Linked DNA regions of Homo sapiens: region 2 is linked to region 1. Evidence: fine-mapped expression QTL. A gene starts in region 1. The other region holds a variant in brackets. All regions are shown on one strand. Distances are from middle to middle. Region 1 holds the start of MTMR2 (myotubularin related protein 2). Region 2 overlaps FAM76B (family with sequence similarity 76 member B).

The links. PIP is the estimated chance that this variant, and not a neighbour inherited with it, causes the effect.
Region 2: its variant is fine-mapped to the expression of MTMR2 in lung (TOPMed, PIP 0.98).

Annotation. Positions count from the first base shown.
Region 1 is chr11:95,918,276-95,931,133 of GRCh38, reverse strand. MTMR2 (myotubularin related protein 2) reads left to right here and starts at 7,027. Exons shown (of 15, transcript NM_016156.6): 1 at 7,027-7,259. The coding sequence starts at 7,180. RefSeq lists enhancers at 6,810-6,939, 7,000-7,049.
Region 2 is chr11:95,768,087-95,780,944 of GRCh38, reverse strand. FAM76B (family with sequence similarity 76 member B) reads left to right here. Exons shown (of 10, transcript NM_144664.5): 6 at 1,019-1,066; 7 at 1,258-1,338; 8 at 1,988-2,123; 9 at 4,922-5,023; 10 at 9,295-11,992. The coding sequence ends at 9,384. Among named protein-coding and RNA genes, the nearest start is that of FAM76B, 15 kb to the left of the region's middle. The variant C/T (reference allele first, on the strand shown) is at 7,085.

The DNA.
Region 1 (12,858 bases):
TGAATTTTTCAGTTCATTTGTGTTTTCCAGTTCCAGAAATTTCGTCCTTTTTAAAATAGCTTCTATCACTTTGTTGATATTCACATTTTGTTAATGTGTTGTTTTGTGATTCATCTATTGGTATTCTCTTTAAGCTCATTGAACATCTTTATTTTTTAACATGTTATTTATTTTTTTGAGATGGAGTTTCATTCTTGTTGCCCAGGCTGAAGTGCAATGGTGCAATCTTGGCTCACTGCAACCTCTGCCTCCCAGGTTCAAGCCGTTCTCCTGCCTCAGCCTCCCAAGTAGCTGGGATTACAGGCATGTGCCACTACACCTGGCTAATTTGTTGTATTTAGTAGAGACAGAGTTTTACCATGTTGGTCAGGCTGGTCTTGAACTCCTGACCTCAGGTGATCTGCCCATCTCGGCCTCCCAGAGTGCTTAGATTACTGGCATGAGCCAATGTGCCTGGCCTCATTGAGCATCTTTATAACAGTTATTTTAAATTCTTTTTCGGGCAGTTCATAAATCTGAATTTCTTTAGGGCTTGTTTCTGGAATTGTATTTATTTCTTTGGTTGGGCCATGTTTTACCCTTTCTTTGTATGACATGTAACTTTTTTGACAGGATTTGAAAAAAAAAAAAAAAAAAACACCTCTCCCAGTCTTTGTGTACTAGTTTTGTGCAAGAGAGGACTTTTACTAATCACCTGGGCTGGAAGTTCTATGACCTCCAAGATATTTTCTGATCTCCTGCTTCTTTTGGTGTCTGCCTGTAGAAATGGGGCTATAATAAGCTGCTCTCCTTTATTATAGGCTCCAAGCTCTGGTATCAATACCATCAGTGCTCAGAGTCTGGCAAGACCAAAACCAGTCCCTTGGGCAGCCCCAGAAAAGCCAAAACATTTTATTTAAAGTCCCCTTTTCTGCTTTCATCCACAGGAAAAAGCCCTGATAAGAAGTGTGGAGTGTTCCCCCCACCCATTCCTTCATGATATGCCATCTAGGGAAAGGACGATAAACAGGTATGCCAAATGCCATAAGTTTTTCTACCTCTTTCTCTAGAATACTTTCTTGGTTTAACATGCTTTAACTTCTCACACAGATTGTCCTGTACTTTTTTTTTTTCTTTCTTTCTTAGACAGGGTCTCATTCTGTCACCCAGGATGGAGTGCAGTGGCTTAATCACGGCTCATTGCAGCATTGACCTCCTGGGCTCAAGGGATCCTGCCATCACAGCCTCCCAAGTAGCTGGGACTACAGGCACATGCCACCACACCCACCTAGCTTTTGTATATTTTGAAGAGATGGGGTTTCACCATGTTGCCCAGGCTGGACTCAAACTCTTGGGCTTAAGCGATCCGCCCATTTTAGGCCCCCAAATTCTGGGGTTACAGGGGTGAGTCATTGTGCCCAGCTTGTACATTGTTTTAAAGTCATCATCTGTGTGGCCAGAAGAGCCTGCATCTTCCTAGTCTGGCGTCTTGTTGACATCACCCTATTTTAAGTAATATTTCATTTAGGATTTCACTTGTGTTTATAAATGTTCACAAAGGAAAGGCCTATGGGAAACAGACCTCATAAAATTGATTCAGCAGCTTTATTTTTCTGTTCCTTAATTTCTTCAAAATCTGTTAGACTTTATCCATAAAAATATTTGAGGGAGAGGTTTTTGATTTTTTTTAACTTCTATTTTTTTCTGTTTCTTATTTAGCAAATTTTGGCATGTCTCTGTTTCAAAATATTTATTTATTTAAGATTATAAGCGTTTGGTGTAAAGATGTCCATAAAATTATTCTATGATGTTCAATCTATTTTAATTATATCTTCTTGGTCATTCAATGTTTATTATTTTCATTTTCTCTCTTCTTTTCATTTTGATATATAATATTTGTACATATCTATGGGGCACATGTGATATTTTGTTGCATGCACAGAATATGTAATGACCAAGTCAGAGTATTTAGGGAATCCATCACCTTGAGTATTTATTATTTCTATGTGTTGAGAACATTTCAAGTCCTCTGCTTTAGCTATTTTGAAATATACTGTACATTCTTGTTAACTATAGACATCATATTCTGTTATTGAATGTTAGAACTTTTTTTTTTTTTGAGATGAAGTCTCATTCTATCATCCAGGCTGGAGTGCAGTGGTGCAATCTTGGCTTACGCAACTGCCTCCCGGGTTCAAGCAATTCTCCTGCCTCTGCCTCCTGAGTAGCTGGGATTACAGGTGCCTGCCACCACATCTGACTAATCTTCGTATTTTTAGTGGAGATGGGATTTCACCATTTTCGCCAGGCTGGTCTTGAACTCCTGACCTCAAGTGATCCACCCGCCTTGTCCTCCCAAAGCGATAAAATTACATGACCCACTGCGCCCAGTCTATAACTTATTTCTTCTATCTAACTGTATCTTTGTACTCAATAACCAACCTCTCCTCATCCTTCCTCTACACACCCTTCCTAGCCTCTGGTGTCCTTCATTCTACTCTCTACTTCCATGAGATTGACTTTTTGAGCTCCCATGTATGAGAGATAACACATGACTTTTGTCTTTCTGTGCCTAGCTTATTTCACTTTACATAATGACCTGTAATTCTATTTATGTTGCTGCTAATGACATGATTTCATTCTTTTTTTATATTTCATTGCGTATATATATTTTCTTTATTCATTCGACCATTGATGGGCATGTAGGTTGGTTCCATATCTTCGTTACTGTGAATAGTGCTGCAAAATAAACATGGGGTGCAGGTATCTTTTTGATAACTAATTTCTTTTCCTTTGAATAAATACCCAGTAATGGGTATGCTGGATCATACGGTAGTTCTATTTTTAGTTTTTTTCAGAAATCTCCAGACTATTTTCCATACTGGCCGTACTAATTTACATTCCCACCAACAGAGTATAATAGTTCCCTTTTCTCCACATCCTCACCAGCATCTGTTATTTTTTGTCTCTTTGATAACAGTCATTCTGACTGGGATAAGGTGATATCTCACTGTGGTTTTGACTTACATTGTCCTGATAATTAGTGATGTTGAGCATTTTTTCATATACCTTTTGGCTATTCTTGTGTCTTCCTTTGAGAAACATCTGTTTATGTCCTTTGCCCTTTGTTTCTTTGAGACGAAGTCTCACTCTGTCTCCCAGGCTGAAGTGCAGTGGCGTGATCTAGGCTCACTGCAACCTTGGCCTCCTGGGTTCAAGCGATTCTCCTGCCTCAGTCTCCAGAAGCTGGGATTACAGGCACCCATAACCACACCCAGCTATTTTATTTTTATTTTTATTTTTGGTAGAGATGGGTTTTTGCCATGTTGGCCAGTCTGGTCTCGAACCCCTGACCTTAGGCGATCCACCCACCACAGCCTCCCAAAGTGCTGGGATTACAGGTGTGAGCCACCTCACCTGGCCCTTTGCCTTTTTATTTGAGATGGAGTCTCACTCTGTCATCCAGGCTGGAGTGCAGTGGTATGATCTTGGCTCACTGCAACCTCTGCCTCCTGGGTGCAAGCAATTCTCCTGCCTCAGCCTCCTGAGTAGCTGGGATTACAGGCACATGCCACCATGCCCACCTAATTTTTATATTTTTTAGTAGAGATGGGGTTTCATCATTTTGGCCAGGCTGGTCTCGAACTCCTGACCTCAAGTGATCTGCCCACCTCAGCCTCCCAAAGTGCTGGGATTACAGGCATGAGCCACACGCTTAGCCTGCCTATTTTTTAATGGGATTTTTTTCTTTTTTTTTTTTTTTACTGTTCAGATATTTTAGTTCATTATATATTCTAAATATTACTCCCTTGTCAGATAAATAGTTTGCAAATATTCTCTGCCATTCAACAAGTTGTCTCTTCACCTTGTAGATTGTTTCCTTTACTGTGCAGAAGCTTTTTACTTTAATATAGTCCCATTTGTCTATTTGTGTTTTTGTTACTTGTGCTTTTGAGGTTTTAGCTGTAAAATCATTGCCTAAAGTCCTGAAGTAGTTCCCTTGTATTTTATTGTAGTTATTTTACAGCTTTGGGTGTTACATTTTAGTCTTTAATCCATCTTAAGTTGATTTGTGTATGTGGTAAGATACAGGGGTCCAGTTTTATTCTTCTGAATATGGATATCCAATATTTCTAGCACCATTTATTGAAGAGATTGTCCTTTCCCCAGTGTGTTTTCTTGATGTCTGTCCAAAATCAGTTGGCTGTAAATGCATGTGTTTATTTCTGGATTCTCTCTTATGTTCCTTTGGTATGTGTGTTTGTTTTTATACCATACGCTGCTGTTGGTATAGCCTTATGTTTATTTATATTTTGAAGTCAGATAGTCTGATGCCTCCAGCTTTGTTCTTTTTGCTCAGGATTGCTTTGGCTATTCAGGCTCTTTTTTAGTTTCATGTGAATTTTAGAATTTTTCTTCTTTTTTTGTGAAAAATGACACTGATATTTTGATAGACATTGAATTTGTAGATTGCTTTGGGTAGTATGGTTATTTTAACAATGTTAATTGTTCTGTTCCATGAGCATGAAATGTCTTTCCATTTATTTGCATCTTCTTCAATTTCCTTTATCAGAGTTTTATAGTTTTTCTTGTAGAGGTCTTTCATTTCCTTGGTTAAACTTATTCCTGGTTTTTGTTTGTTTGTTTTTGTTTTGCAGTTTTTGTAAATGGGATTGCCTTCTTGATTTCTTTTTTGGCCATTATAGATGCATAGAAATGCAAACTAATTTTGGATGTGGATTTTGTATTCTGCAACTTTATTAATTTATGAGATCTCAATGGTTTTTTGGTGTAGTACCCATACATGAACTGTTGTCAGTCTATGATGAGATCAACGCAATATTGAGAATAAGTGTTTAGGAACTTTCACGAAACTTTCAAGGAGTAATATCTGTTAAATCTAATAAACAATTTGGCCTTGTATTTTGCAAACCTTTTTCTTTAATTTTCCTAGTGCAGTTATCCCTTAGTATCTGCAGGTTATTGGTTTCAGGACCCCCAAGGATAGTAAAAGCTAAAGATGCTCAAGTCTCTTAAATAAAATGGCATTAGTGTCTACATATAACCTATGCATACCCTCCTGTATACTTTAAATCAACTCTAGATTACTTATAATATCTAATACAATGTAAATGTTATGTAAATAGTTGTTATACTGTATTGTCTTCTATTTGTATTATTTTGTTTTTTACAATTTTTACAAATTTTTCAATCTGTGGTTGGTTGAATCTGAGGATATGGAACCAACTGTGATTAATTTTTCTTATATTTTAAAAAAGTTTTGGTTGGTGATGGTTTGAAAATTAAAAACAAAACACTGTTCCTTCTTGCAGATAGTTTGAGAAAAAACAGCCCAGATTATAAATTGAAAAATTAATAACTTTTGGTGAGGTCCCAAGTTAACCATGTTTTTTCATTTTCTTAGAGTTCATTAATTAATTAGAGTTCACTAATTAATTTCCAGCTGATATTCTTTGCTTGTGTTTTCACTCTGAGAAGTTACCATTTTACCAGTCAGGTTAGAAGTCAAGCAGTAAGTTCAGTGGAAAAACAAGTAATAATAAATCTACTTAGTGAGACCGTACTGTGCAACCGACTCTGCACAGAGAAAAACAACCTATTACGTAGATATTTTTATTCCCATTTTATTCCCATTTTAGAGATGTGAAACAACTTAACCACAGCACAGAGCAAGTGTAGAGACAGAACCGGGATTCCGATGAAGATCTGTCTGGTTCCAAAGTCTCTACACTTTTACTACACTGTTCTTTATTAATCACTAGATAGAACCATACACATATTGTTACATCAGGCAGAAGGTTTCGAGGGTTCTATTAACAAAGTGCTACGAATGAACTGGGTGGAAGAAAGTACATAGGTCTCCCATTCAAGGGTTCATCAGCCTTCACTAAGGAAATTTAAGTCAAAGTAGCTGACAGTGAGTCAGCATTTTGGAAGGCAGGTAGAGATGGTGAAGAAATAAGGAAATTCTTCTATGAGTCATGATAGATATTTAAGCTTGTTAAAAAATGTTTTTGACTACCTACTCCCTTTGCCTACAGAGTCCAGTTAAGGTATCTTAAAAATTATGGAAATAAAAACAATCGGTCGCTGTCTGTCCTCGCCAAACTCAAAAAAGGCTAAGCCTTTTGTGCTTAAACACATACTCATCAGTAACTATTCTACCTTACACTGAACATAACTAAGCTAGGTTGTTCTTCTTGGGAATGTACTTGCAAGTTAATACTGCACTGCAACTATAAGGTTTTTTAAAAGACATCAGTTGTACATTATAAATTAAATCTAGTTTAAATCAATATAATTCAATTTATCCTAGCAAGGAAGTTTTTTAAGGATGGTCTGATTTTTTTTTTACAGGAATAATCTTTGCATAATTTTACACCCCATACATGAGATGATTAGGATTCAATCTCAATCAGAAAAATCCCTTTATGGTGTCCTTATGGCTTTCCTGTATCCTAACAGAAAAATCCTAGCAGAAGCATTTCCCCTTTACCCAGTTCCTGTTCTCTTATCACAGTTCTATTCCTCCACACTCCCTTCCTGCTAGGCACGGGAATTTGAAAGGGCAGGGAAAAATCGGTGAAAGTTTGTCTTCTACTTGGGTAATCCAACACCACCGCATCCAGTAGTATATAATTCTTTTTGCATGTATATCAGATCCTCCCCAATCCCTCTCCCATACCTCTTTCTCACTTTTCTCTCATTATCCGGTCCTCTTGTTTTCCTTGACCCCCACATTCCTGTCTAAATCATCCTCCTGGCCTCAGGTCCTTATCGCCTTCCTGAGACCCTCATGTTTAGTGTTCCCTCATTCCTCTTACACCTAGGATTTCTCCTCCTTCCATAAGGGTCTGGTCCTTCATCCCTCCCGCTTCACCAGACCCCCTCACCCTGGGAGCCGCCACCTCCCTTTCCCCAAGACCAGATGTCGCGCGGCCGGACACAGCCAGCACGGAGAGTCGATGCCGGCGTCTGAGCTGCGCAGTGGGGTCTTCCCGCTGCCCAGCAGCCTACAGGCGCGGTGCACTCTGGGGGAACATGGCCGCTTCCGGTCTCCCTCCCGGGCCGGCGCTGGCCTGACTGCGGCCCCGGTCCGTAGCACTCCGCCCTCCGCTTCTCCCGCCCTGTAGCCGCGAAGACTGCTTCAGCCTTTCCCTGTGCTGCCCCTGCCGCGCGATGGAGAAGAGCTCGAGCTGCGAGAGTCTTGGCTCCCAGCCGGCGGCGGCTCGGCCGCCCAGCGTGGACTCCTTGTCCAGGTAACCAGGACGCCCAGGGCCCCGCCCAGCGTCCGAAGGGGATGGAGAGGGGCCGGGGACCTGCTGGATTGTTGCCCCAATTCGCGGATTCTGGTTTCTGAAGGCTACGCCGGAATTCCTTCCCCGGGACTTGGGAACCACTTCTGCCTCCCTCCCTGGGGCGTGGAGGCTGAGGAAAAGGAGGTTAAAACTCGCTGCTTCTTTATCGATTCCTCTACCTTTCATATTCCGATCTCGTTTTCTCCCCGATGGAGGTGGTCCCAGTTAATTACTTTCTCCTGTCTTTCATTCCCTCTCAAACCTTTTTTAAGACAGTTCCCCCCGCCCCCATTCTTTTCCCCACATTTCCTGTCTTTCTCTGTCACTTTTTCCAAAACCATCCTAAAGTCAGTCTTTCCTCCTCCACCCCTTCTTATGTCTTTGGTTTTTGGGTTCTTGCCCAGCCCTTTTCTCTCTTTTCATGGCTTCACCTTCTTAATTTCTTTCATGCTTTTCTCTACACTCTGATTTTCTTCTCGCCTCCCTTTTTGCTTAAATATGTAAATAAAAATGTCTCCTGTGCTTCTCTTTTCTAAATCTTCCAGCTGAAAGTCAGTATCAAGGAATCTGAGTGGTTTTTATCCCCAGTGATAGGTTTAAGAAAACAAAATGAGTGGTAGTTTTCTTCCTTCTTGGGCTACTGGTTCTCCACGTTGTCATTTCTCTTGTAACAGATGGGAATTTTATCCTGGAATTTTGAGGAGGACTTTATGCAGCTTTGCAGAGAGCTTTTATGAATATTAACTAGACGCGTTTTGGATGCAGTCTTTTTCTTTGATTTTAAAATAATGATTTAAAAATTTTTTAAAAAATAATATAAGACCTGTATTTGCTTTTTATGCAGCCACGATGAAATCTGGTTCTTTTCCACTGAATAATAGTCTAATTGTTATTAGAGAGTGATTCGATAACTGCTGTGTGAAAACACACAATTTTCATTTTCTCCTTCAATCAGTTGAAGTGGCTCTATTATAATTCATTTTGGATTCTGCTAAATATGGGTAGTTATTGCCTTTTTTCCTGTTGATGTTCAGCACCTCACTGGGGAACCACTGTCTGATCCCGTCATTCTACATTGCCATATGCACTCATAGCTCCCTGCACAGTCGTTTTTCAGAGTCTTTAATAAGCACACTATAATTGTTGGCTTAAAGTGCCTTTTCTACCAGGTTATAAGCTATTATACTTGAGGGCAATCTTAATCATCTTCATATCTCCAGCACTTAACATAGTCTCAGCATGTGATAGGTGCTCACTAAATGGTTTTTTTTTTTTCGAATTTGTAGCCTGAATTATCCAGGAAAGGAGGATTTTTCTTTGCAGTTTGATTATATATATTGCACGTTTGAATCAAGTATTTTTTGAATTCTGTATTTATTGCTTTGAAATTTGGAAAGCTGAGGATTAACATGTTCAGTTGTGTAATTCATTCAGAAAACAGGTTGGAAAATTCGAATTTTATGGGAAAGTTACAAATGACAACTATGCCTCAGAATAGCATAAGAGGCAACCAGTACTCTCATCCAAGGCAGAGAAGTTAGAACCACATGAAGCAGCACAGTATGTTAGAAAGAAGGAAGTACTGGAAGTTAGGAAGCTCCCATGCTGAAGTCTCTGGCTGAGCTAGCTCTTTGGTCTTTTCATTTAGACTTTCTAGTCTACAGTTTTCTCATCTTTTAAAATAAGAAGCTTGATCTAGAAAATCTGTAAGGTCCCTTGGAACTCTAACATTGTCATTTTTAAAATTTTAATGACAATACTAAGATGAATGCATTGATATTAATTTTAAAGATAATTCCTTTGCAAATAACCTTTGTTTTGGATTTTTGCAATTACACGAAATAAGTGTCCTTTATTATTACAAACTAATATACCTAACGGTGCCACTTGAACATATTTATTTCCTAAAACAGAAAGCCCAGCAAGTATAAAGATTATATATGTATATGAACTTCTCTATAAAAAATTATGTTACTGACAAATTTGAGAAAATTAAGTACTCCTCGAGAGAATTGTGATATAGTAGATTAGCCTAATCCTCTCTGGACAAAAATATAAGTATGATTCCTATTTTCCATAAGAGAATGCCAGCTTTCATTACTCTCCTCTGGAAGGTAGAAAAGTAACATTTACTTAATGTCTACTGTATGGAAGTTTCCCTGCTAAATTCTATGTATCTTTTATTTCATTAATCATCATACCTGTTTGTGGCACTCTCCTTAATCAACAGTATGTAATAGATACATTATAGACACTAGTTAGAAAGCTTAATTTTAAACAATCTAGGCTAACACTTCATCGCAGGTGACTCTAATACATTGCCAGTGTGGCCTGCTTTGGTCTCATAGCTATGTTAAGTGTCTATCTAGATTGTTTAAGTTATTTCTTTTGTTTCATTAGCCTTTGACAAAGCAAAATTATTGCTGTTTGGCCTATATTATCTCAGTTTTTGCAGAAATGATTCCCTTAAATTGTAGTTTATTTTTATGCTTTCTGTTTTTATACAGAGGCCTAATTGGGAAACTGCCTTTGGAATTTGTTTTGATATCTCTGGCAGAATAATAGTTAATATTGTTAAATGTGTCACAGAATGTTTTTCACACATGCATTAACATAAATTTCTGCTGAGTTTAGCTACAAAGAAAATTATTTATAGAAAAAATTATGTATGCTCCTTGTTTGTTAGTAAGTGGTAACTATATAACTGCGTCTTTCTCTTTAGCTTAGTAAAACTTTAGTCAAATTTATATCTGAAGGTGGTAATATACTCATCTCTAATTTCTTTAAGTACTTTTATTATTACATGAACTCAAGTTAAATATTATGTGTTATGTTTAAATGTATTGATTAGATGTCTGAAGCCCTTTTGGGAAGTAGGAAGGATGATACACTAATCCATGTGGTTGCCCATTGTTTTTTGAAAATGACATACTTGGCCGAGTGCCATGGCTCATGCCTGTAATCTCAGCACTTGGGAGGCCAAGGTGGGAGGATCACTTGAGCCTAGGGGTTTGAGACCAGCCTGGGCAACATAGTGAGGCCCCATCTCTAAAAAAGAAAGACTTTTTAAAATAAGTAAAAATATTTTAAAAAATGAAAATGACATACTCCATTGAAGTTGGATTACAGGCTGTTGTGCAATCTGTAGTTCACAATAAACATGTGATGAGTCTTACTAAGTATCTGTAGTCATTTCAGAGTTCTCTTGTCTCCAGTTATGCCTTCTAGGTCATCATAGATCTGATGCTTTTGCCCACAAAAGGGCAATTTCATTCTTCATATGATATCCAGGTAGTAGTTTCCTAACCAGCTATAGTTATGTCATCCTGCATCTTTAAAAAAAAAAAAAAAAAAGTAATCGTCAGCTGGGCGTGGTGGCACGCACCTGTAACCCTAACTACTTGGGAGGCTGAGGTACCAGAATTACTTGAACCTGGGAGGCCAAGGTTGCAGTGAGCCAAGAACGCACCACTGCACTCCAGAGTGGGCAATAGAGTGAGACTCCATCTCAAACAAAAACAAAAAAAACAATAGTTGTCTTTGGTGAGTCCTGCTTAATATTGCCATACTTCAGTAAACTGTTCAGCAACTCTTGTATATCTTGCTGTTGGCCATTCTTCATGTATATCTATCCCCACAGAAAGAGAGAGGGAGTTGTGGAAAACTTCACTTTAGCATCCTAATAATCTAGTTATATTCTGTAATTTTACTTTTGTTGGGTGTGCTCTGATTCTTGATATAAGTATGACTTTATAAGATATAGGTAAAATAATACTGTAGGTCAGATGTGATAATAAGAGTAGGCTTGAGTCTCAGAACTGTAATGAGTTACACAGCAGAATTTGACATTATATTGGTAATAATCTGCCATCTTAGTCTGGTTTTCCATTTTTCAGTTTATACACTATTATAAAATGCACTGCTTTAGTGGGTTTCTTTGATTAGTTTGTATTGTGCATAATCAAATGGTAAGATATCTAGTGCCGAATAGGTGCTGAGTGAACATCTAAATAAAAGAATGTTGACGGAATGTTCACCACTGGTCTTGTTTGTTGTTCCCATTCAAAGGATTAAAAAGGATTCCTTCTGTTGAATTTGGCCTGAACACTTGCAATTTCAGGTCTAAGCTGAAGTTATTTTTATGGGAGACTGGACATCTTGAGCTGATTTTACTGTTCTGTGCCCAGTCCTACACACAATGAGGTTATTATGTCCTCTTCAACTACCTATTTATCCATCTGCTACTCTTGATTACTTTTGCCCCTTTTGCTCTAACTTGTGTTGTTAGTCGTTTTAATTAATGTGTGTTCTTGTCATCCTTCATATAACCTCAGGCTTTAGTTATTCTGGGTACCATACTTGTTTATCCCAGATTATTTGGTTTTATCAATTTGTAGTATATAATTTCATTAGCATTGATGAGCATCTTATATTTACATTTAACTTCCATTAAAAAAATCAAAGGGGGGGTACACATACTCAAAGTAGTTCTCAACTAATTGCATTTATAAATTGCATGCCTGCCTTAAAATTATCATCATTTGAAAACAGGAATTCCTAGATTTCTGTTTCCATGGATTTTGATTATACTTATAGCCTGAAGAAGTAGAGGAGTTTCCTAGATTTCTAAAACACATTTTGTTGCAAGGTCTCATCTTTAGTTTTAGCCTCAAGGTCACTTAAGAGTGACGTGTTGGAGGCCAGGTGCAGTAGCTAACGCCTGTAATCCTAGCAGTTTAGGAGGCTGAACAGTTTGGGATTGCTTGAGTCCAGAAATTCCAGACCAGCCAGGGTCACATGGCAGAACACTGTCTCTGCAAAAAATAAAAAGTTAGCTGGGCATGGTAGTGCATGCCTGTAGTCCCAGATACTTGGGAGGCTGGTGTGAGAGGATCACCTGAGCCTGGGAACGTTGAGGCTGCAGTGGGTTGTGATAGTGCCACTGTATTCTGGCCTGGGCAAGACAGTGAGACCCCGTCTCAAGAAAAAAAAGTGATATGTTGGTAGGAAATATGCTTTTATGTTGTTTTTCTAGTAGTGGTGATGGATTTGTGTACAATCACACATTTTTACCCATTCCCTTTGTCACTCTTGGCATGTCTGCTGAGACAGCTGGCAAGATTAGAGGTAGAAATTATAGCTGTAAAACAGAGTAAAGCTACCAGATTGAACCTACAACCTTGGCATTATTAGTAGTACCTTGTATCAAACATTGAACATATTAGACTAAAAATTACTTATTTGGATTTCATTACTTAAAAACCCTCAAAGATCTAAGTTCTCTTAGATAAGAAACAATATTGGTCTGACATAGTAATTATGTAGCTTTTCAGAAAGCACATATTTGAAGAATGCAAGTTGATAGTGAACCTGAGACTGGGTCCCGTATATATCTGTATTTTTCCTTTTTATGCTATTATCAATAATTTCCTATTAGTGTAGACCAGTAGTTCTCAAAGTTTGGTCTCCAGGCCAGTAGCATCAGTATCTCTTTGGGATTTGTTAAAAATGCAAATTCTTGGGCCCTACCTTGGACCTAACTGAATTAACATTTTAGGGG
Region 2 (12,858 bases), 150 kb after region 1:
TTTTGCTTAAAAAACTTCTACAGCTGAACCAATAGTAAATTTTAGACACAAGTAAACATGTATATATATATATGTCTATTTTGTATATGCTAGCACTGTACTAAGTGATTTTACATATATAACTCATTTAATGCTCATATCAGTATAAGGTATGTATTACATATGAGGGAACTAAGGCTGGGGATGTTAAGTAATTTGCATAAGGTCACAGCTCAGGTATTCTAACATCTTCTAAATCGTATAAATACGTGGCATCTGGTTCATAGGAGATGCTCTCTACATGCTGAGTGAATAAGCTAGGGTTAGTGAAGCATTGACTGATATGCAAGTTTAGGAGGAAAAAAATGAAGGATTCATGATGAATTATAAAGTGATTATTAGTATTAGGGTAAAATAGAAAAGGAGTATTACAGTATTAATTATGAGTAAAAGTAAAATAATTTGTTACTATGAAATTTCTCAATAGTTTCAGCGTAACTTCTCCAGAATACTAACTAAAGAGAGCTCTATGGACTTTGGAGAGGATTCTTAAGAAAACTAGGAAAGAATCAAAGAAATCAATATATTTCCCCATTTAAATTGAAATACTATTCTGAGCAACTTGAGTTACTCCAAAAGAAGAATCTCTACTTCAGATTATTAGGAAAGCCTTAACTTTAAAGATACAAATTTTGTGTCTGAAATAGTAAGGGCAGCCAAAGTACAGTGATACCTAGACACAAGCACGAAAACTACTTGTGTAACCCACCCTTTGTATGATATTAAATTGAACTGTGGAGATCCTGATTATAAAGAATTCTTGAAGAACTTGAGATGGTTAGCAGTCATTTTATTAAAATTTATTTCATCAGAATGTGATTTATTCAATATGTATTAGCTTAGTCTGAAAACTTAAATATACCTTTCTCTGAAGAAAATATTATAAACATAAAATTTGTATCCATTGAGAAAGAATGTTAAATTTAGATGTATTAAATAAATAAATGTCATTATTAGATGTCATTTGTGTATTTTTCAGAATCAGCAATCTAAGTCCAGAAGAAGAGCAGGGACTGTGGAAACAGAGGTAAATACATTGCTGTATTTTCTGAAGTATTTTGAAATGTATATTTATAAATGTGATATCCCTTCAACTTTGTTACTTAAGTCTTACCAAAATCAGTATTTTCAGTAATATTTTAGGGGAAGATGAATAACTTATCATTTGGTTTCTCTGTCCTTTTTACTCTAACTATTCTTATTAATGTTTGGTTTCAGCCATAAATCCTCTGCAACAATTCAGAATGAAACTCCAAAGAAAAAGCCCAAATTGGAATCTAAGCCATCTAATGGAGATAGGTAAAAATGAATTCTTTTAGTGTTATGAAAATTCAACTTAGTTGAATAGTTATGGTTGAATGCCAGTTATTACTAGATAAAAAAATAGAAACATGTATTTTCTACATTGACTTGAGTCACCTAGAAGAATAAACATAAATTAGTTTAAAATTTTTAGCTTAATTTTGGCAATAAGAAAGTGGCACTGAACTATGTTGTTCTATTTGGGAAATAAATTTGGGTTTTGAAGAAACAAATTTGAATGGAGAACATTATTTTTATCTTTATTCTTCAGTGAAACACAAATCTAATTGTGATATTTTAAATTGACCTGCTTAGAAAATGTTTTTAGATTAAAAATATTATGAGCGTTACTTTGTTTTAGTTCATTAGCCAAAAGTTTGCTGATGTTACTGTACAAATTGGCTGCCTATTGCTTTACACTAGAAGTATTGACCCCCTTAAAGCTAATACTGAATTATATTTCTGCAGGTGTATGTAATGTGTGCCATTAGTAAGGTAATTTGCCAGTTGCATCCATTTCTGTCAGGTACATATTTTTTTGCATTAGCCTTAAGGATGTTTGTGGAATTGTCTAATTTATGCAATTTGAACACCTGCTAATTTTCCTTCTACTTCATTTAACTGTGTTTTACTTTTTTCTTTTTAGTAGCTCTATAAATCAGTCAGCAGATAGTGGGGGAACAGACAATTTTGTCCTTATAAGTCAATTGAAAGAAGAAGTGATGTCACTTAAGCGTCTCTTACAGCAGAGAGACCAGACCATTTTAGAAAAAGATAAAAAGGTAAGAACATGGTTCATTGAAGCCTGGTAAGAGTTATGTGTTGACTGTTGCTTGATAATCGCAAATTTTATTAGACTTCCTTTAATAATTTGGTAATGTTTGTTGTGCGTGATTTTTATAAGACAAATTACAAAAGCCCCTGAAGCCATCTAATGAAGATGGGTAAAAATGGTCTTTCAGATTTTTAGTTCTAAGAATTAACTGAGGCTTAATTAGGATAGTAATTTCCAAACTTTAATTTTCAGTAAGCATGTAATTTAAAAATAGATCTAATACCTAATTAAAAATGAGATGTAAATGGAATATTTCATAAACTTTTTTGATTTAAGAATGTAGTTTGAACAGTCTTTGATATAACATTCATATATTTGTATCAATCCAGTCATATATTTGTATCAATCCAGATCAAAATACTGCTGAAAAGTAATGGTATGGGAATTTCCTGTAGTAGTCAGTAATAGTAATTAGCAATAGATGTCTAAAAGCTCATTGTGTAGGAAGTAAGTGTACTTATTGGGACTTCATCAGTTAAATGAAGAGGAATATTAAAATGTGTTGTTCATTTAGTGAAAAGAGGAATATTAACAGAATTACAGAAGGATTTAAGGTCTTGTGCTATGAAATCAGGATGGCACAATAGTGGACAGGCATGGAACAGGAAACAGTTTTGAAGTAATTTAGCCATACTTAGATTCAAATCCTAGTTCTAACATTTTCTGTGTGACCTAAAGCAGAATGTGTGCTTCTTTGGACCTCAGTTTTCTCATTTAAATGAGAGCATTAATATTATCTGAAGTGATGGTTTTGATGATTAATGAAAATGCAAAGTATTTATTATAGCTCCTGGTATGTATAAGTGCCCATAGGGGCTATTACTGTTTGATCATCTTTTGTACTTGTTTTATGGTCCCAGACAATGTAGTTTGACCTGTATCAAATGTATTATGCAGTAGGAGAACACTAAAATCATTTCTTTTAAAAGAATAAGGCCTTAATATGAATACATATATGACTTATATCCATCTCTAAGTCTGTGCTGAGTTGGCTTTTACTTCTGGCATTCAGTAATTTTTGATACATTTTGCCACACCTTGATGGTTAGTGGGCTTAATTTATTTTAATACATTTGTAGCTTACTTTAAGCAAATTTAGTATATGAAAATTAGGAGTGACATATAAAATAGGATAGTTACGGGTGTCTTTGTCTTATGGTTCTTTTTGATTGACAGCATTTTTTAAATTAATGAGCCTTTATGGAAATTTGTCCTGTGTACAAAGTTTTAGAGACAGGCCAGATATATCTGCATTAGCCTTGAGAAAAGTTGAATAAAATGCCAACTTTACTGCAAAATAGCAATGATTTCAAAACCAAGTAGTAATCAGTTATAGAATATTGACTGCTAGATTTTTCTTTCCTCTCTAGCATAAGAGGTACTATCTTTGTATTGTGCAGTTAATTGAAGTTTTCTGCTTTTGTTAGTGTTCCTCTTTAAAAAAATCACAACACTAATGGGGATTGAAATTAGCATTGTTGTAAGGAAAATCCTAATGGTAAACCTAAAATAACTATACATTTGCAACTTTTTCTTATAAATCTAAGATGATGAAGTTATTTTACTGAATTGATTTCACAAAGTTATTTAATGATTTCTAGAGCCAGACACTGAACTAGATCATGAGGATACAAAGATGAATAAATAAGACATAATTCTTATTTTCCAGAAGTTCATAGTGAGGAGGCAACTCACAGTGTAGTGAATAGAGTAATTGTCTTAGCTGATCTGGTGTATGTTGGCATTTCAGAACAGAAAATCTTTTGTGATTAGAGAAAGTTAGAGAGAGAGAACTTAGTTATACTTTGAATTTGACAAAAGCAAGGGTTTTTTTTTTTAATAAGACTATAAGACTCCATGATTTTCTCTATTTTTGCTGTTGTATGTCTTTCAGTTTATTAGATACTGGGTAATTACAAAGGAGAATGTGTAAACCTTTAAAGCTGGCATAATGAAAAACATTAAAAAATAACCTGGAGTTCCCTCTGCATGGTTCTAATAGTGAAATTACATAATAACTTATTTAGTTTGAAGTCATGAGATATTATACTGTTAGGTATGTCATTTATGAAAAATTATCATGTAGCCTTCTTCCTCAAAGCACTGATTTTTTTCTTGTATTTGTCTAATTTAGCCCAAATTTTATAGTAACCTTCTTTCCTTTCTCATTCTGTGTTAGTTGTATTTCTGTGCTTTGTTCTCTATTTTTACCTCAAGTGTTAGGTGGTATTGTGTACATAATCCTGGACATAAATTAAAAAATGAAAACAGTGTAGCTTTTGGCTGAAAAGACCATTCCTTTTTATATTACCCAGTGTGAAATTTCTTTCTTTAAGCATTGAAAGATTATTTTACGCATAAGCTAGTTTAAATGTTTATATTGTTTTTACTATTATTGAAGTACATTTTTAAATGAGGCATTTTCCCAGTTATTAGCCGTTAAGCTTTTTTCGTTGGCATACCAGTTGCCAAACTCTATTTCCAGTCGAGCCATGTTTAGGAAAAAAAGAAAACTGAGAAGTTTTACTGATGGTCAGGTATTAACATTAAAATTATACTATTGTGAAGCAGATAGACTTCATCATTTCACCAAACAAACTTTAGATAGCTTGTACAATTCAGGAAACTGCAGTTAACATCTTCTACTTTTGTAATGAAATGTGAGTTTATTGTGAAAGTTATTTAAAATGGTGTGTGTGTGTATGTGTGCAAATATATACATATATTTTTTCTTTAATCTCTCAGTTAACTGAACTAAAGGCAGACTTTCAGTACCAAGAGTCAAATTTGAGAACAAAAATGAACAGTATGGAAAAAGCCCACAAAGAAACTGTGGAACAACTTCAGGTAACTACCATCATTTACGTAAAATGATAGGCAAGAAGGGCTAAACTTGAGTAATAGCATTCATTGACTTAGATTGTTATTGGTAGCCCTATTTTGTGCATAGTTGGTGCATTTCAGTTTTGATTTTGACTTTATAATCATTTTTAATCTTGATCTCATTAGAAGTTATTGTTTGAAATTACTTGAAAGGGGGATTCAGTACTTTAATCTTGAAAACTTTTGCCTAAACTTCAAATGGAGTTTTTGGAGGAGGGTATCATTGGAGTGTGTTCAATTAATTATTGGGCTTATAGCAAAAAATTAAAAATCAGATTAATGAAACTAAGGTGAAAAGCAGGTCTTCAGTAGCAATCATTCCTCACATTAATATTTCCTTCCAGATAATGGGAAAGGAGATGGGTGTATAAAACCAATTCTTAAGGACCTGGAGTGGCAAAAATGTGTGCAAAGCAAGAGAGTTTACTTAACCTGTGTACAGTGGTTCGCAAAGTGCCAAATAGGGTTCTGCTAAATGCTAACAGGTAGTGATCCACCTGAACCTCAGAGTACTGCAAAGTAGCAGTTTAAGTATACAGAACAACTGAATGGTAAAGTCAAGAGTCACCACAGTAATAATCTGATGTCTGGCATGCAGAGATGGTGAACATCCAACATGGATACAGAATGCTACCATATTAAGCTGCTTCTCTTCTAGGTTTCATACATTTAGAAATCAGACCACACTAAATTAATTACATGTTCTCTTTGATTTATACAGTCTCACATTTGTAAAATTAGTCTTTAGTAACAAAATTTTTAAGGTGAAAGAAGTTTTAAATGTTAATGGAAGATGGCAGCACACAGACGTCAGACTTGGGAGAGTACAGCTTCAGAAGGAAGGAGTTAATACTGTCCTGTTTCATTTTGTTTTTTTTTTTTCACATTGTAACACCAAAGGATATTTGCTATTTCTTTCTTTTGGTTTTGTATTATTCATACTTCTTTGCAAGTAGCTTAAATTAGTAGGATTTAGGAACTTGCTCAAATTCGAGGTACAGATTATCTGGTCTTAATCCCTATCATACTATTACAAAGACTGTTGAAAAAGGAACCTCATGTAGAACCTGAGACATAGTAGGCATTCAAATAATTTGTTGACTAGGTGGTGATTTATGGAAATGCCCATCAGCCCTCTGTTCTGAGAGATTGCCCGTATCATATATCAGATTCTTATATATTAGTCAATGTTTTTATCCACCAGCAAGTATTATTTTTAATTTTATGTTATTCCTGTTTTTCTTACTCAGTTATTAATGCTGAATGATTACCTGGAACAAAATCTTCCACCTGGTGATCTTTGATTTAATGTAATGTAACCAAAGCTCTGAAGTAAATCCAGAATGAGATAACAGAATAACTGCAATAGGTGCTCAGATATGTTTTAACTTAGTGCTCCCCACTGTTCAAAAGAGCAGTTTGTGTGTTGGTTTTTCTTTTTTAAAATCATAGTTGCAAATACATGGGGTCATCTTTGACTTAGCCTGATAGATATCTTAGGCCTACCTCCTCTTGGTAATTGAAGTTTCATGTAGTATAAAAGTAACCAATATTTAAATAGGACATTTTGACATGATTTTACATATGCTGTCTTACTTGTTGCAAAAACTGGGTTATGTGATATGCCCATTTTACAGAGGAAACTGTGATCACACAGTAAGCGGTGACGTAGAAATCTCTGTCTTCTCACTCCAGTTTATCTATACTTTTCCCTGTCCTACACTAGTTCCCACCACTTCAGGTTCCTCAGGTTTTCTATTTCATCCTTCCTATCAGGCCACTTCCCTGATTTTTTTGTGTTATGGCTAGAGACAATCTGTCATAGCTGAGTGCCATCTTTTTACCTCACTTCCTTTAGCAACCAAGTGATACTAGTAGGATTCTTTACTGAGGTGAGGAAACCGGTAATTTTTTTTTTATCTTTATGTAATAAGGAATTGAATCCTGTGACACAAGATGGATCTTGCTCTAATAGCTAGTAAAATATTTTTAACTGCCAAACCTACGACAAAACACTGAACATCA[C/T]ATGAAAAAATTGTTCAAAATGTCACCCCAAAATACCCCAAATATTGAAAATACTAAGAATATCAAGTTAAAACTCTTATTCACTTAATTAGGTAAGTGGTTAAAAGGAAAAGGGACCTAACATTTGAGTGCCTTCTGTGTACCAGGAACTGTGTTAGGCTAAGTGTTTTATATATTTGATAAGTTCCTTCAACTCATTTTGAGTTCGGATGGTGGAGTTTGTGTTACAAATGAGAAAATATGCTCCAGGTTATGTAGCTGGTAAGTAAGCCAGGATTTAAAGCAGGATCTATGTAATTCTTAATCCTGATATTCTTTCCTTTGCACCAACATGTCTAAACTTTAAAACTTAGCTTTCTTAAGAGTCTGTAAAGAATTTCATTGATTTTTTTTTTTTTTTTTGGCTGGCTGCAAAATGAAGTAATTTTAGGATAAAACAATTTAAATGTACATATATTGAAATATGGCATAAAATTCATTTTTAAAGTATTCAAATTAGAATAATTTGGACTTGTACTTAACAATTGTGTTATTTATTTACCATAAAGACTTTTGTCTTATGTAATTTATTAAGAAATATCTTTATTAGTGATATAAATATATTAAAAGCAAATTGGAAATTAGCTACCAAAGCATTAAATGGAAAAATTGCTTTGAAGACCTAATGTTCAAATTATTGTATTTTGTACTTAAAATATGAAAATTATAAACACTTTATTTCTTGATAATTGAGATAAGAACTTGGAGATTCACATTTTAACTATTTTGTATCAGTATAAACATTTTTAGATAAATATAACTTAACAGATCTAGTGGAGATCTTTTTGAGTCAAATTTGCAGACTCAAAATTTGAAATTGATACTGAATTTGAAATTGAAGTTTTTCGTTACCACCTTAGTTATTAATAACCACTGAATAGGAAAGTTCTATTGATCATGCATCTGAACATAAAAAATTATTTGATTTGCACATATAAGATAGTACTGAGAATATTTGCATTTTAGAGGTCATGGGTGTTAATTAGCAAGAGTGATTGGAGAAGAAGGGTGGGGGAATGGAAGAATAAAGTTTGAAAAAGGTTATTTCATGAAACCACTTTAAGATGGCATACAGAGAAGGCAGAGTGTTATCTGCCCGTAAAAAGCTAAAATTAGAATAAAATATGAAGTACTGAGATTAAAAAAGTCTGTCTATATAATAAAAATTCCTGGAACCTGTGAAGGAAAATGGTGTTGAAACATAAGTCAGAGGATATCTTTTTAAAATGTGTTAATTTTAGGGCAGTGCTCTATTTTCATCACTTTCCCCATTTTGGCTCAAACTACAAAAATGCTTGATCATTAATGTATTTGTATATATAGGGATCCTTACTATCTAAGTTTTCATATTTAAGAGACTGAATAAGGTGACAAAGGCAGTCAAAATGTGAAAATATTCACTGTACTTACACATTCCTCTTCACTAAACTAGTGATGGATGGACATTTAATAATGAAATTCAAGTCAGATGATGAAATGAAATTTTGAATCTTTGTAAAAATTCAAGCTTTCATGAGATAGGAAATGATGATGTGGAACTGCTCAAACCACACTAAAATCAGTGTCAGATGACTGGTAACTAAAGGAACAACAAGATAATGAGTGGTTCTGATGGGTGCTTTAAAAAAAATTGAATATCATTGGGTGCATTTGGCAAAGTAACAAATTCTGAGTTGTTTTTGCAAAAATGACCTCTTATGCTTGTTCTACAAGAGAGTAAACATAGAAAAAAGACCTTATACAGCTTGCCAGGAAATACTCCTCCCAAATCTTGATTCATTCTTTGATTTTATTAATTGTAAATTACAACTTATTTTCATAGTTTTCATGTTTTTAAGATGAAGGGCCAAACACCTTTTCCCTATTAAAATTTGGACCTTCTTTTAAGTGGATTCACTTTGTTTCCTTTTTTGTAACCAATTGTGCATCTTTGGACACAATTATATTAATAATGACATATACAAAGGGGGCTGATGAGCCAATCTAGAATTTTCCTTCTGCATGTTCATCCTTAAAGAGATGAATGTAAAGGTATCAACTCTTTCATTTAATGTTAGTGCTTTAGTGAAACATTTATATAAATGAAAACAGTATTAAATAAGTAGTATTCTTCAGCATGACTTAATAATATTTCAAACATTTTTAATCTTGAATGTTTTTGTCTCCCACAGGCCAAAAACAGAGAACTACTCAAACAGGTCGCAGCATTATCAAAGGGTAAAAAATTTGACAAAAGTGGAAGCATACTAACATCTCCTTGAGAAAGTCATTTGTTTAGCATTTCTTCTTACAATGTAAATTTGGGGAAAAAAAATTCTGTGAAGCCCTTAAATTCTGTGTAGTAGAAAAATATTTTTGCACACCAAATGAATTGGTGTGTTTCCTGTTCACTTTTGTAATTGATATACAGCATTTTTTAAGTTGTAAAACATTCAAATAAAACTTCAACTGGTTTGAAGTAACTTTTTAATTATTTGATATCCAGGAACTTTTTTGCCAGCAATAGTATTAAACAGTTGTAAAGGAGTGCATGAGTAGTGCTCTTTATGAAACGCAACATGCAATAATAGAGTAGGTATGGTTTCAGAAGTCAGAGCAGCAGGGTTTTTTTGTTTTGTTTTTGTTTTACACTATGCTAATTTCAGACAAACAGTTTTCAATTTAGAAATACAAAAACTTTTAAACTCGAAAAATGGCGAACACTGGTTTTTTGGGAATTGTGTTTTTACTTTGCATCAAGATGAATTTAGGAGAAAATCACGGTGCTTTTATTAAATGAACTTCAGATATATGTAAATTTGTTTTTTAAAGTTACATCATTAACATTAGTAACCTAGCATTTTCATTATTGGTATAGGAATTAATGTTTATTGTACAGTATCTAAGGTAAAATGTGTTTCTGTTTTGTAAAAACTACTGTAGATTTTTACTTACAAGTGCCTTTTTGCCACCTAATGTTTTTATTTATAGGAATGCTGATCTTTTGTACATACATTTTGTTTTAAAATCATGTTTAATAAATGTTTGTATATAAATGCATATGTACAGAAGCCTATTTCAAAAGGAAATCAAAGTTGCTAGTAAAATGTTTGAGATTACATTTAGAACTAACTGATAATGCATATAGATTGTAGAAAATTTTGTGATTTGTTTCTGTGTGATAAGGGAAGCTGTTGGTCTTTGAATTCATTTAATTATGTCAAAATAGTTCCCCAAAGATTTAATTTTAAGTTGCTTCTTAAAGAGTAATTTTATTTTTTATGTCATGTGGCTTCATATTAGTATTGTGTGAGTTACATGTTTTGCTTTATATTTTATAAAATTTTTTAAAAATTTTAATGTTTCTGCAATGATCCATGTATCTGCTTTCCCTATGTGTGGTTATCTAAGTTAATATTTATGTACAATGTAATTTGTAAATTTAAAGCAAATCTGAAAAAAATTAAATGATCTTTTTAATCCAATCTGTGATAATCTTTGAATAAATTGGAATCTACTATAAGATTCAGGCATTATAAGTAAATTGTCCTAAAGTCTTTAAAATTGTCTATAAAAGGTTAAGGTAGGGTGGGATAGGTTATATGAAGTTATTGACTATATTCTGATCCAGCGGTTTTCAGCCTGAAATAGAATTTATCTCCTAGTTATTATCAGTTCAGAGTTTTAGTTTGATTTTAAAGTATTGCTAGATACACTGTATAGAGTGAGTTGCTTCTCTTAATAATTTATGGGCAAAGATAAATTTGCTTCATGTAAAACTGTTACTAAATTTATAAGTTTTAAAGGTTTTGTTTTATACAAGCATTGATTGTGAATGTCATATCAAAGATTGGCTTTCTTAAGAACACATGATTGAAACAATTTTTTTTTAACATGACGTGTTTCAATAGACTGTTCTCATAGTTCATTATAAAGTGAATACCAAATAATTCTTTGTCCATTTTGAAAGCATAATATAGGGTAATTTTCAAGTGATACAAAAAGATTCAGTTAGAATCTTGTAAACTAAACCAGTTTATTTTTATGGGATCTTCATGTAATAATTTTCTTAAATTTAGTACTCTCAACCATGATAGATAATGCCTTAACATGGATTTTAACGTTTGCAGGATTTGCTAAATTCATAAGATAGTTATTACCTTTCTTTGAAATTTGTAATGTTTTATATTCTTGTTTCATAGCCATTTGTCAGTCCACAGTGGTCATTATGGTTTTACTTTTTGATAGTTCTTACACCTTGTTGGAGAAACTACAAAAGAAAGTTGTCCTCGTCCTTCCCCTTAGCTAACATCAAAATTAAAAAGTTGAATATTAATATTAGCTAACATTAAAATGGAAGGTAATTCAGTTTTAGTGTTAGCTAACATTAACAGTCTAATAATTTAGCTTTGTAAATTCCAAGGCTAAAACCCTTTCATGGGCTTCACAGTATTTAGTCCTAATTAAATACCCTTCTTTATTCCATGACCTTATTTTATAACTTAAATTTTTTTGCAATTGTATAAATTAGTAATTCAGTCCCAGTCCTGGATCTCTGTAGTGTTTTGACATAATAAACTGATATTCTTTAAATGTGGACCTGTAAGGAGATACTATGGTGTGGTGTATTGTGCTTTTAGCCTGTTTTCCACTATTAATTAGCATTTACCAGTAAGGGTCATTTTGACTCAAGTTATTTATGTATTAATAGCCTGTGAATATTGCAGTCCTTTTTAGATTATATTGGTCTAAATATGCATTCTGCAGTGAACCTGTTAAGCTGTTCACATGTATAGACTATTGAAATACTGTACTTGTACACATCTGACTGTTGACATTTTGTACTTTTTTCTAGATCCAATATTTCACAATAAAAAACTTGTCAAAGGCTTTGTATTAGTTTTCAATGGCTGCTGTAACAAACTCCCACACACTTAGTGTCTTAATACAACAAAAATTAATTCTTTTATGGTTCTGGAGGCCAGAAGTCCAAAATCAGGTTTACTGGTCTAAAGTCAAGGTATTGGCAGGATTGCTTCTTTCTGGAGGCTGTAGGGGAAAATCTGTTTTCTTGCCTTTTCCAGCTTCTAGAGCTGCATTCCTTGCATGCTATGAGCTCATTGACCTTTATCTTCAAAGCCCAAATTGTAGCATCTCAAATCTCTCTCTGCTGCTGTCATCATACCTTCTCAGAGTGTCTCCCTCTGTTCCCTCTCATAAGGACCTTATGAGAACATTATTGGCTCCACCTGCACAAACAACGTAGTTTTTCCATCTCGAGTTCTTAACCTAGTCACATCTGCAAAGTCCCTATTGTCATATAAGGTAATGTATTCACTGGTTCCAAGGGTTCGGGCATGGACATATTGGGGGACCATTATTGAGCCTACATAGCTTCATCTACATTTTACCCCCTTTTTCCAGTATGAAACCCTGAAACAACAGATACATGAGAGAAGTTTAGGCCAAACATTAGAAACTATTTTCCTGTCTGTCCATTCAGACCACTTTAGTGCAATAGTTATTTTTCCTGGAAGAAATAAATTTGCATCTAATTGAGCAAGTATTTCAAGCTATAGTTAAGTTTTTGAAAGCTTTGGAACATGACTAGTACCATGCTAGATTGTTTGATAAGTTAAAAGTTGAAGGTGTGATTCTTTCATTTGTAGACTAGGTGGGCAGATACTGTGCTTGGGAAAAAATCTGGAACCTAACTTTGGTATTATAAAGTGTAGTAAAAGCTAACAGCTTTTAGC